2 separate regions of the Homo sapiens genome follow, and region 2 is linked to region 1. Evidence: fine-mapped expression QTL. A gene starts in region 1. The other region holds a variant in brackets. All regions are shown on one strand. Distances are between the middles of the regions.

Region 1 (5,518 bases):
CAGGCAGAAGGTGGGTAAAGGCAGCTGCCCACGAACCAGAGGGCAGTCCTCAATGGAAGGGCCACCAGCCGTGCCTCACCCATGTCCTGTGGTCGGCTGGGCAGGTTCAAGGCAACACTGTGGCTGAGTGAAGAGCACCCGCTCTCCCTGGGTGACCAGGTGACCCCCATCATCGACCTAATGGCCATCAGCAACGCTCACTTTGCCAAGCTGCGCGACTTCATCACTCTGCGCCTTCCACCTGGCTTCCCCGTCAAAATTGGTGAGAGGCTGGGCACAGGCAGCGGGAGGACCTCAGGCATGGCACCCTCCCTCAGCGCAGTCCCTGGAGAGCTGCAGGGGCCGGAGGCACAGGTGGCTCTCCGCCAGGGCTCAGGCGTGGCTGTCTTCTCACAGAGATTCCCCTTTTCCACGTGCTCAATGCCCGCATCACCTTCAGCAACCTGTGTGGCTGTGATGAGCCCCTGAGCTCCGTGTGGGTGCCGGCCCCCAGCTCTGCTGTTGCCGCATCAGGTACCCCAACGGGAGGAAGAGGGAGCCTGCACAGCTTTCTGGTCACCAAGCCCCGCGGGTTGAGCGTGGCCCCTCTGCCACCTGCCTAGGGAACCCTTTCCCGTGCGAGGTGGACCCCACCGTGTTTGAAGTGCCCAACGGGTACAGCGTGCTGGGCATGGAGCGCAACGAGCCCCTCCGGGACGAGGACGATGACCTCCTGCAGTTCGCCATCCAGCAGAGCCTGCTTGAAGCGGGCACTGAGGCGGAGCAGGTGGGACTTGCCCAGGGGGTGGGCTCTGGCCTCTGCAGCCACACGGCAGAAGTGACAGCTGTGGGCTCTGGTGGCTGCAGGTGACCGTCTGGGAAGCCCTGACCAACACCCGGCCCGGTGCCCGCCCTCCTCCCCAGGCCACGGTTTATGAGGAACAGCTTCAGCTGGAGCGGTGAGCCCCTCATGGGGCTGGCTGGGTCCCTGTCCCCCCAGCCCTGGCTTGGCGGGGAGGGGGATAGCAGGAAGGTGCTAGGACCCCAGGCCCTCTGCAAGGCCACCCTCTGTCAGCAGCGCTATCTGCCACCAAAGGTGGTGTGAGGGGTGGGGAAGCAGGGCCCTGCCTTGTCTCCTCTGCTTGCCACCCTGTCTTTGCCTTTGTCCTCCAAAGCCGGTCCCCAGCCCCTCGGCTTCTGCCCCAGCCTTGGCGCTCACTGGCCTGTTCTTCCCTCCCCTGCCCTGCCTGGAAGGGCCCTCCAGGAAAGCCTGCAGCTGTCCACAGAGCCCAGGGGCCCAGGATCCCCTCCCAGGACACCCCCAGCCCCCGGTCCACCCAGCTTTGAAGAGCAGCTGCGCCTGGCCCTGGAGTTGTCTTCACGGGAGCAGGAGGAGCGGGAGCGGCGCGGGCAGCAGGAGGAGGAGGACTTACAGCGGATCCTGCAGCTGTCACTCACTGAGCACTGAGCCATAGCCCCGGGAGGGCTGGCCAGGCCACTCCCTGCCCGCTTTTGTAATTTATTTATTTATAAACTCTCTGCTGCTGAGCTTGGGGCCTGGAGCCCCAGGAATGAGCAGGCAGGGGAGACTGAGATGGAAATAAAGAGACTGTCGCAGCAGGGCTGCTCTGCTCACTGGGCTGGAGCGGTGGGGACCCTGAAGGTGGGGCGCTGTGGAGAGGCACTGTGGATGGCGGCCTCAGACCTGGGCTTGAATCCTGGTCATGGTCCCCTTAGCCTATCTGAGCCTCAGTTTCTTCAGTTGTAAAATGAGGAGACCACCCCCCACCCTCCGCCCCTCAGGGCTGAAAGGAGCTGGCGAGAGTCACGTGTCCTTACCAAGCAGGCGTCCTGTGAAAGTCAGATCCCCTGTGCCCTGTCCCACCTGCTGGGGACCCGGTTCGTCCTGCCACCCAGCCTAGTCTTCTGGAAACCGGCCCACGTGCCTGCTGGGGAGGAAAAGCCTGGGTCCCCAGGCACCATTCACCTCCAGCTGGGAAGAGCCCCGACGCCGACCCCTGCAGCCAAGCCCAGGCCCTGGCCCTGACTGCGGCTTGTTCTCTGCGGGTGGGTTTGCGCAAGTCACTTCCGCCTGCGTAGCTGGAAGCCCTGCCCTGCTCGCCTCCGAGGTGGACCTGAGAGCCCCTCATGGGCTTCCTGGGTTATTTGTAAACCCCAGGCCGTTTTCCCCGGAAGCCTGTCTTCCAGTGGTTCCTGCGGAGTGGGAACGAGAAGGCCGACCAGCAGGGAGAAATGTTTGGGGTGGGGGCCCTTGGCCGAGGGCGCGCCGTGCCTGATCCTCTCTAGACCTGTCCCCCACCTCCCCACCTCAGCTCTGCCTCCCTAGGACCCGCCTCTGCAGGGCACAGGACGCTGGAGGCCCAGAACAGCTCAGGTGCTCCCGCTGGGCCGGCCCGGGCCGGGCGCTTCCTGGGAGGGGGACCAAACTCCCGGCCTTCAGCTCTTGCCCTCCGGGTCTCCGGGCTCCGCACCTGCGCCCGCCCCCGGCCTCGCCCCTGACCTGTGCCCAGGGGCTGGGCGGGCCGAACAGCGGAGACCGGAGGGGCGGGGCCCGGCCGCCCTGAGAAGCTCCGCGGGCCCGGCTGGGCGAGTGTCTGGCCCTTTAAGGGCCGCCCCCGAGGAGGTGCCAGGCCCGGGTGGCGCCGTCCGTCCTTCCTGGTCCTGCGGGTCCAGGACTGTCCGCGGGGTTGAGGGAAGGGGCCGTGCCCGGTGCCAGCCCAGGTGCTCGCGGCCTGGCTCCATGGCCCTGGTCACAGTGAGCCGTTCGCCCCCGGGCAGCGGCGCCTCCACGCCCGTGGGGCCCTGGGTGAGTGTGGTCCGGCCGTGGTGCCGCCCACGCAGTTGCTGCCCCGGCTTGGGAGCGCGTCCTGCCCGCCAGCGGGCTCCTCTCGAACGGGGACATGAGGAGGGGGCCCCGGGGCTCGGGCTGGAGGGCGCTGGGGGCCTCGAGGGTCTCTGGTACTGGCGCCGGGGCACAATCCAGAGCCCTGCGCGCCGCCCGGGCTGCGGAGGCCCCGATCTGAGCGCGCCCCCCGCCACACTCGGCGCCCACCCAGCCGACCTGGCCTTGGGCCGGGGCTCCACGGGGCCTCCCGGTGGGGCGTGGACTGGGGTGGGAAGACGATTGGCATCTGGCGCCTTTTCTGGCCTCCCCCAACTCTAGAATTCCTGAGAGAGGGGAGGGGACAGCCCTCCCCGCCCTCACCCTGCCCTGGGGCTGCTCTCTCCGCAGGACCAGGCGGTCCAGCGAAGGAGTCGACTCCAGCGAAGGTGAGCGCCACCTCCCCCACGCAGACACTTCCGTCTGCCCCGGGCCTGGCCACGGCCGTCCTGGGCTCCAGCTGCAGGGACAGAAAGCTCCCCGGAGGACGCGCAGCGAAGCCCACTGCCAAATTTGTGGGGCAGCGTTCCCGGTGGGGCCGGCTGGTGGGCTCGCGGTAGGGCGGCCTTTGCCTTCACCCTCCCCCTGGTCAGCTGGGGCTTCCTCATCCACTGCCCTGGGCTTTGGCTCAGGTGGTGGCCACGGGCCGAACGGCAGGAGGGCATGATGGGCCTGAGGACTCCTGGGTCCCCGACCATGTTCCCAGCAGCACTTGAGTTAAACAGGTGGGAGGGGAAAAGGAGCAGCCCCCTCTCCCCACAGATGAGCTAGAGTAGAGGGGCTGAGAGCTTGGAAGCCCCCAAGACTGGTTCTCAGCAATATTGCCAAGGGGCCGAGGGGTTAGAAATGCAGATGCTCAGGCCTCCACTCTAGACCTATCGACCGCGTGGGGGCCCATGAATCCGTGTAGACAAGGGCTGCAGGTGAATGTGATGCATGCTAGACTTTGAGAGCCCCTACCCTAAGGGGAATGAGGAGCCATGACAGTTGCCCACTGCCCTGCCAGGCAGAGCTTTGCGGTGCTCCGTGGGGCTGTCCTGGGACTGCAGGATGGAGGGGACAATGATGATGCAGCAGAGGCCAGTTCTGAGCCAACAGAGAAGGCCCCGAGTGAGGAGGAGCTCCACGGGGACCAGACAGACTTCGGGCAAGGATCCCAGAGTCCCCAGAAGCAGGAGGAGCAGAGGCAGCACCTGCACCTCATGGTACAGCTGCTGAGGCCGCAGGATGACATCCGCCTGGTGAGGGCCCATGTGGAGCTCCGGGGGGTGGGGGGAAGAGACACGCCTGAGGGCAGAATGGAGCCCTGTGTATGTGTCTGCTTGGGGAGCAATGGTGTGAGGGCAGGGGGCAGCCTGGGGAGTGTTGGGGTTACCCATATCCCAGTGACCCTGCTGTTTCAGGCAGAGATGTTTTGTTTTTTGTTTGTTTTTTTTTTGAGATGGAGTCTCGCTCTGTTGCCCAGGCTGGAGTGCAGTGGCGTGATCTCGGCTCACTGCAAGTTCCACCTCCCGGGTTCACACCATTCTCCTGCCTCAGCCTCCCGAGGAGCTGGGACTACAGGCACCCGCCACTATGCCTGGCTAATTTTTTTTGTATTTTTAGTAGAGATGCGGTTTCACCGTGTTAGCCAGGGTGGTCTCAATCTCCTGACCTCGTGATCCGCCTGCCTCGGCCTCCCTAAGTGCTGGGATTACAGGCGTGAGCCACCGCGCCCGGCCTGGGCAGAGATATTTTGACAGGGCGAGGTCATGGCTGCAGGTCTCTGGAAGGGAAAGAACAGGGGAGGTTTGTCCTGTGTGAGCCAATAGGGCCAAATTAGGTCCAAGGGGTGGGAATTCCAGAGGCATGTTTCTCCTCAACCAGTAGAAGACTTTCCTGATGATGTGAGCTGTCCCTAAATGGACCAGTGCACAAGGCAGGCTTGCTGGACACACACTGGGGGAGGGTGTGCTAGAGGGACCCAGGCAGAGGGGAGGAGGACTCCAGCCCCACGGAGGAAGGGAGTCCAGGTGGAGCTGGAGCGCTCATGCTCAAATACTTGTGGAGACAGCTCGCCGTCCTCAGCAAGACGTGGCAAACAAGATGCAGTGAATCTTTGGTAAAACTGAATTTACAACAGAAGTATCATCCCCTATCGTGAGATTTTGTCCTTAATATTTCTTTGGTGATAAACATTTCTCAAATGAAATGATAGCATTTGCAAGTGACAGGGTAAAAAAAAAACAACAAAAAAAAACTGGCCGGGCGCGGTGGCTCATGCCTGTAATCCCAGCACTTTGGGAGGCCGAGGCGGGCAGATCACGAGGTCAGGAGATCGAGACCATCCTGGCTAACACGGTGAAACCCCGTGTCTACTAAAAACACAAAAAATTAGCCAGGCGTGGTGGCGGGTGCCTGTAGTCCCAGCTACTCGGGAGGCTGAGGCAGGAGAATGGCGTGAACCCGGGAGATGGAGTTTGTAGTGAGCTGAGATTGCGCCACTGCACTCCAGCCTGGGTGACAGAGCAAGACTCCATTGCAAAAAAAAAAAAAGAAAAAACCTCCTTCTTGCTGGGCACAGTGGCTCACGCCTGTAATCCCAGCACTTTGGGAGGCTGAGAAGGGAGGATTGCCTGAGTCCAGGAGTTCAAGACC
Region 2 (5,000 bases), 89 kb before region 1:
TTCATTTATCAGATGCCTACCACATGCTAAGCACTGTCTAGGTACTAGAGATACAGTGGAAAATGATATCATTCTTGTTAGAGACTCAAAGAAAGACAAGAAAATATGCATTTATATAAACTATAGTATGAGCAGTGCTTCAAAAGTGAATAAACAGCCAGGCAAAGTAGCACATGCCTTTAGTCCCAGCTACCTGGGAGGCTGTGGTGGGAGAATTGCTTGAGCCCAGGAGTTTGAGGCAGCCTAGGCAATGTGGCAAGACCCAGTCTTTTAAAATTAAAAAAATTGAATAAAGCAGGATATTGTGGAAGCATTTTGGAAGGATGACCTAATTTAGAAACTATAGGAGAATTAGGGGAAGCTCTTTGGAGGAAGTGGTGCCTAATGTTGACATAAAAGAAATAATGAAGCAAGGAGAGGGAGACCAGAATTACGGGCAGAAGGAATAGCATTTGTAAAAGTAGGTTCCGGGAGGTAAGAAGGGCAACTTTTACATGCCTGTTATAGGAGCTAGCATAAAGTAGAGTTCTATGGTGAGAAGAGATTATTTAGTGCTGCCATTCCAGCAATAACTGAGAGGTAGATTTTAAAATGGCACAAATAATACACATTTGTTTGGTGATGGGGAAATAAGTTCATGGAAGGCTATGAGTTGTTTATGAATAGACTAGGTTCATGATATTGGACTTCTTACCAGTTTGGCCCTAGTTTTGTTGCAGAACAGATTATAACTGGGATCAGAGTATTTAGCAAAGGATCTATCCCAAGGCTAAAGATTAACCTAAGAAGAAAAGCACGAACATGTTACCACAAATTCTCTCTGTAGTCTGAAGATACCTAATAATACCAAAGAAAGGCAGGCAAAAATGACTGACTTTCTTGCTGCAATTAAGAAATTCTGCTTTCTGTGAATGAATGCGTGGTAAAAAAAAAAAAAATACTCATATGTTCTGAACCGTTCCTCTCCCTATTCAGACATGGGAGCTTACAGCGTATTAAGCAAGTACTTTATTCATTATTCTGTTAAAGGCATTCCCATGGACAACACACGGGGATGGGAGATGGTGGCTACTACATTAAGAAACAGTAAATTTTATTTGAAGGAAAGAAAGGCATCCAGGGCTTATTCAATGTTCTGGGACCGGCGGATGCTTGGTTAAAATTGTTGGCTCCCTGAGCAGAAATTCTTTGAAATGGAACAGCAGGTTAACCTTAACCGTTGCTCCTCATCTTGTTTGTTTCTTCCATGTCAGTGGTGATGCTTTCTAAACACTCTCCCACAGTTAACATCTGGGTATCCTCTAGACAACTGCTTCATATCATGCACAACTTTATGCATTTGTCTCCATTCACATTATAAGGGAAGTAAGTGATCAAATACGTAGATGTTGTTACAAAGCTTACCAGATACATGTTTTTTATAACCATAAGTTAGATATTTACCACATCAGCACTGTGCTGAATTCATGGTGGTTTGGCTCTCGAGTTTTACCTACCTGGAGTTCATTGGTTGAGTGTAGACACTTGAAGGCACAGGAAATGTTATAATTTAGTGTAAAATGTTGCGTATTGCTTTCACTTCTCTTTTTTTTCAGCCAGTATTATTTAAAAGATTCCTGGCCGGGCATGGTAGCTCATGCTGTAATCCCAGCACTTTGTGGGGCTGAGGCTGGTGGATTGCCTGAGATCAGAAGTTCGAGACCAGCCTGGCCAAGATGGTGAAACCCTGTCTCTACTAAAAAATACAAAAATTAGTTAGGTGCGGTGGCGGGTGCCTGTAATCCCAGCTACTCAAGAGGCTGAGGCAGGAGAATTGCTTGAACCTGGGAGGCGGAGGTTGCAGTGAGCTGAGATCGCACCACAACATTATAGCCTGGGTGACAGAGCAGACCGTCTCAAAAAAAAAAAAAAAAAAGATTTCTGTATTCTCACATTATTTCAGATTTTAAAAGTGTTTACATTTAATCCTTACAACGTATCTTTGAAGTAGTTATCTTAGTTTTTTTGTGTTTTTGGGTTTTTTATTGAGACAGTCTTGCCCTGTTGCCCAAGCTGGAGTGCAGTGGTGATCGTAGCTTACTGCAGCCTCAACCTCCTGGGTTTAAGCAAACCTCCCATCTTAGCCTCACAAGTAGCTAGGACTATAGGCACATGCCACAACGCCTGGCTGTTTTTTTTATTTTATTTTATTTATTTTTTGAGACGGCGTTTCGCTCTTGTTTCCCAGGCTGGAGTGCAGTGGCACCATCTCGGCTCACCAGAACCTCCACCTCCTGGGTTCAAGCGATTCTCCTGCCTCAGCCTCCCAAGTAGCTGGGATTACAGGCATGCGCCACCATGCGCAGCTA[A/ATTTTTTTT]TTTTTTTTTTTTTTTGAGACGGAGTCTTGCTCTGTTACCCAGGCTGGAGTGCAGTGGCGCAATCTCGGCTCACTGCAAGCTCCGCCTCCCGGGTTCATGCCATTCTCCTGCCTCAGCCTCCCGAGTAGCTGGGACTACGGGCGCCCGCCACCACGCCTGGCTAATTTTTTGTATTTTTAGTAGAGATGGGGTTTCACCATGTTAGCCAAGATGGTCTCGATCTCCTGACCTCGTGATCCACCTGCCTCGGCCTCCCAAAGTGCTGGGATTACAGGCGTGAGCCACTGCACTGGGCCTAATTTTGTATTTTTAGTAGAGACGGGATTTCTCCATGTTGGTCAGGCTGGTCTTGAACTTCCGACCTCAGGTGATCCGCCTGCCTTGGCCTCCCAAAGTGTTGGGGATTACAGGTGTGAGCCACTGATCCCAACTATTTTTTTATTTTGAAGAGATGGGTTCTCACTGTGTTGCCCAGGCTGGTCTTAAACTCCTGGGTTCAAGTGATCTTCCCACCTTGGCCTTCCAAAGCTCTGGGATTGCAGGTGTGAGCCACTGTGCCTGGTCTATCTTAGTTTTATAGATGAGTTTGAGGGCCTTATATAGTCTTGAAAAGACATGATAGACCTGGAGCTTCTTATTCCTAAGCTGGTAGTTTCTATAGCACATTGTCAATGCAAGGCTATAAATCTATACTGGATTTTTTTCTTTTTTTTGGCCTAACTTTTGGCATCTTAACTGTTCTAACAATGGTATATATTTTGCTGAGTTTATAGATACCTTCCAGACAACACCTTTTATTGGATTAAAAAATAAAACAAATTATATAAGTATTGACATAGAAGAGAGTTCATAGTTATACACTATTGCATAATTAATGATTCCATTTTGACTAGTGCTGTCTTTACTATTATCATTTGATGGAATGATTAATCTTTATTCTCATATAACAATTATTTCTAGGATGGTTGCCTAGTAATCCTAAGATTCGCCAACAGATTTTTTTAATTTGCTTATAATTAAATTATAGTTTTTTGTTATGTATTTTAAGAAATTCTGCTTTTCTTGACTTTAAAATTATCTTTGACCCCAACCTTTCCCTTGGAGCCCAAGTGTTTCCTCCTTCTATTTAAAGGTGGATTTCATTGACTGGGTAGACAACATGTGGCCAAGGCACTTGAAGGAAAGCCAGACTGAATCAACAAATGCCATCTTGGAGATGCAGTACCCTAAAGTGCAGAAGTAAGTGATGCGCCCTGCATCTTCCTCCGTGTGCTGTGGGAGACCAAAGCAATAGCAAGGATTGGCTTCTCCCTTACGAGCTTTGCTCTGTGTCTTGAATGATTAAAAAGATGAATTATTTAAAGATGAGACTTTACAGTTCCACAAGGAAGAGTGTATGTGAGCATACCATAGCACACAACCACACAGTTAAAGGAAAAAAAACTTACATTTTAGTCAATACGGTAGAAAAAAAAAAAACCTTTTTCTGATAATGTGATGACTTGAAAATGCATTGCTTTTTCTCCTTCTGGAACTTAAGATTAAGTGGAAGATAAAGGGAGTATATAAGAGGAGAGTATGGCATTTTGGTGGGGCAGATGTACTTTTTTCCATCAGTACACTAATGCTGCTGCTTTTTTTGGGTCAGGTACTGTCTAATGAGTGTTCGAGGCTGCTATACTGACTTCCATGTGGACTTTGGTGGTACCTCTGTTTGGTATCACATCCATCAAGGGGGAAAGGTATGGTCATAGTTGTGATAGGGGTTGGAATCTGAAGTTGGTTGTATGACTTTGCTTCAGTTCATGTATACTTAATATACCCTGGAAATGAATCTGTTAGGGAATTGTCCCCATTCGTATCTGGAAAGAATTATAGATTAAGTTCACCTTCTTGGCTAGTGTTCAGTAGAAATTAGTATTCATCTAGTTCACTGTCATTACACCATTGGCACAGCACTTAGTAAATCTCAATAGTCCTGTTTCTAGATTCCTGAATCAGAGTTCTCCAAATGAAGCCAAAGAAGTGATTTTAGAAGGACAAGATAATTTCTGTACTTGGAAGTATAATAAATAGTGGAAGGGAACACGAATTTTGGATAGATTCACTGTGAAATCAGCAAATTAAGATCTAAACCAACTTTCCCTCTATGTAGCCATTGGTCTGAAATATGGCCAAAGGAAGCCTTTAAGTCCTTTTTGAGGATGTAAACAGGTTTTGAAGGATTATCTTTATTCATTCAGTTATATTCCAGCTTGTGAAAATGCTTCTGAATGCTATATGAGAATGGAAATCTAGAATTAATACCCGAGGTTTATAGTATTATACTCTTGTTACTCTTTTTTCTCTAACTTGCAGTGAATGCATTTGTAAGAGAAAAGTAGGAACTAGAATGAGAATAGATAATGCCTTGTTTAAAACATGAGGTCTTGGCCAGGCATGGTGGCTCACGCCTGTAATCCCAGCACTTTGGGAGGCCAAGGCGGGCGGATCAGCTGAGGTCAGGAGTTCAAGACCAGCCTGACCAACATGGAGAAAGTGCATCTCTACTAAAAATACAAAATTAGCTGGGTGTGGTGGTACATGCCTATAATCCCAGCTACTCGGGAGGCTGAGGCAGGAGAATCGCTTGAACCCACAAGGTGGAGGTT

Alleles and levels. Positions count from the first base shown, and alleles are read on the strand shown. Sizes are in standard deviations (SD) of each study's normalised expression.
For the expression in monocytes of the gene that starts at base 2,645 in region 1, allele A in region 2 goes with a higher level than allele ATTTTTTTT (large effect, 0.79 SD a copy in Quach 2016).

The links. PIP is the estimated chance that this variant, and not a neighbour inherited with it, causes the effect. A credible set is the group of variants that fine-mapping cannot tell apart.
Region 2: its variant is the best candidate, but not a certain one, in a credible set for the expression of SSH3 in monocytes (Quach 2016, PIP 0.55).

What each region holds. Positions count from the first base shown.
Region 1 is chr11:67,300,886-67,306,403 of GRCh38, forward strand. SSH3 (slingshot protein phosphatase 3) reads left to right here and starts at 2,645. Exons shown (of 14, transcript NM_017857.4): 1 at 2,645-2,806; 2 at 3,233-3,270; 3 at 3,888-4,122. The coding sequence starts at 2,741. ANKRD13D (ankyrin repeat domain 13D) reads left to right here. Exons shown (of 15, transcript NM_207354.3): 11 at 105-262; 12 at 397-513; 13 at 603-766; 14 at 847-938; 15 at 1,234-1,599. The coding sequence ends at 1,447. RefSeq lists enhancers at 1,795-2,312, 2,313-2,832.
Region 2 is chr11:67,211,859-67,216,858 of GRCh38, forward strand. It overlaps KDM2A (lysine demethylase 2A), which reads left to right. Exons shown (of 21, transcript NM_012308.3): 7 at 3,482-3,588; 8 at 3,998-4,091. Among named protein-coding and RNA genes, the nearest start is that of GRK2, 52 kb to the right of the region's middle. The variant A/ATTTTTTTT (reference allele first, on the strand shown) is at 2,349.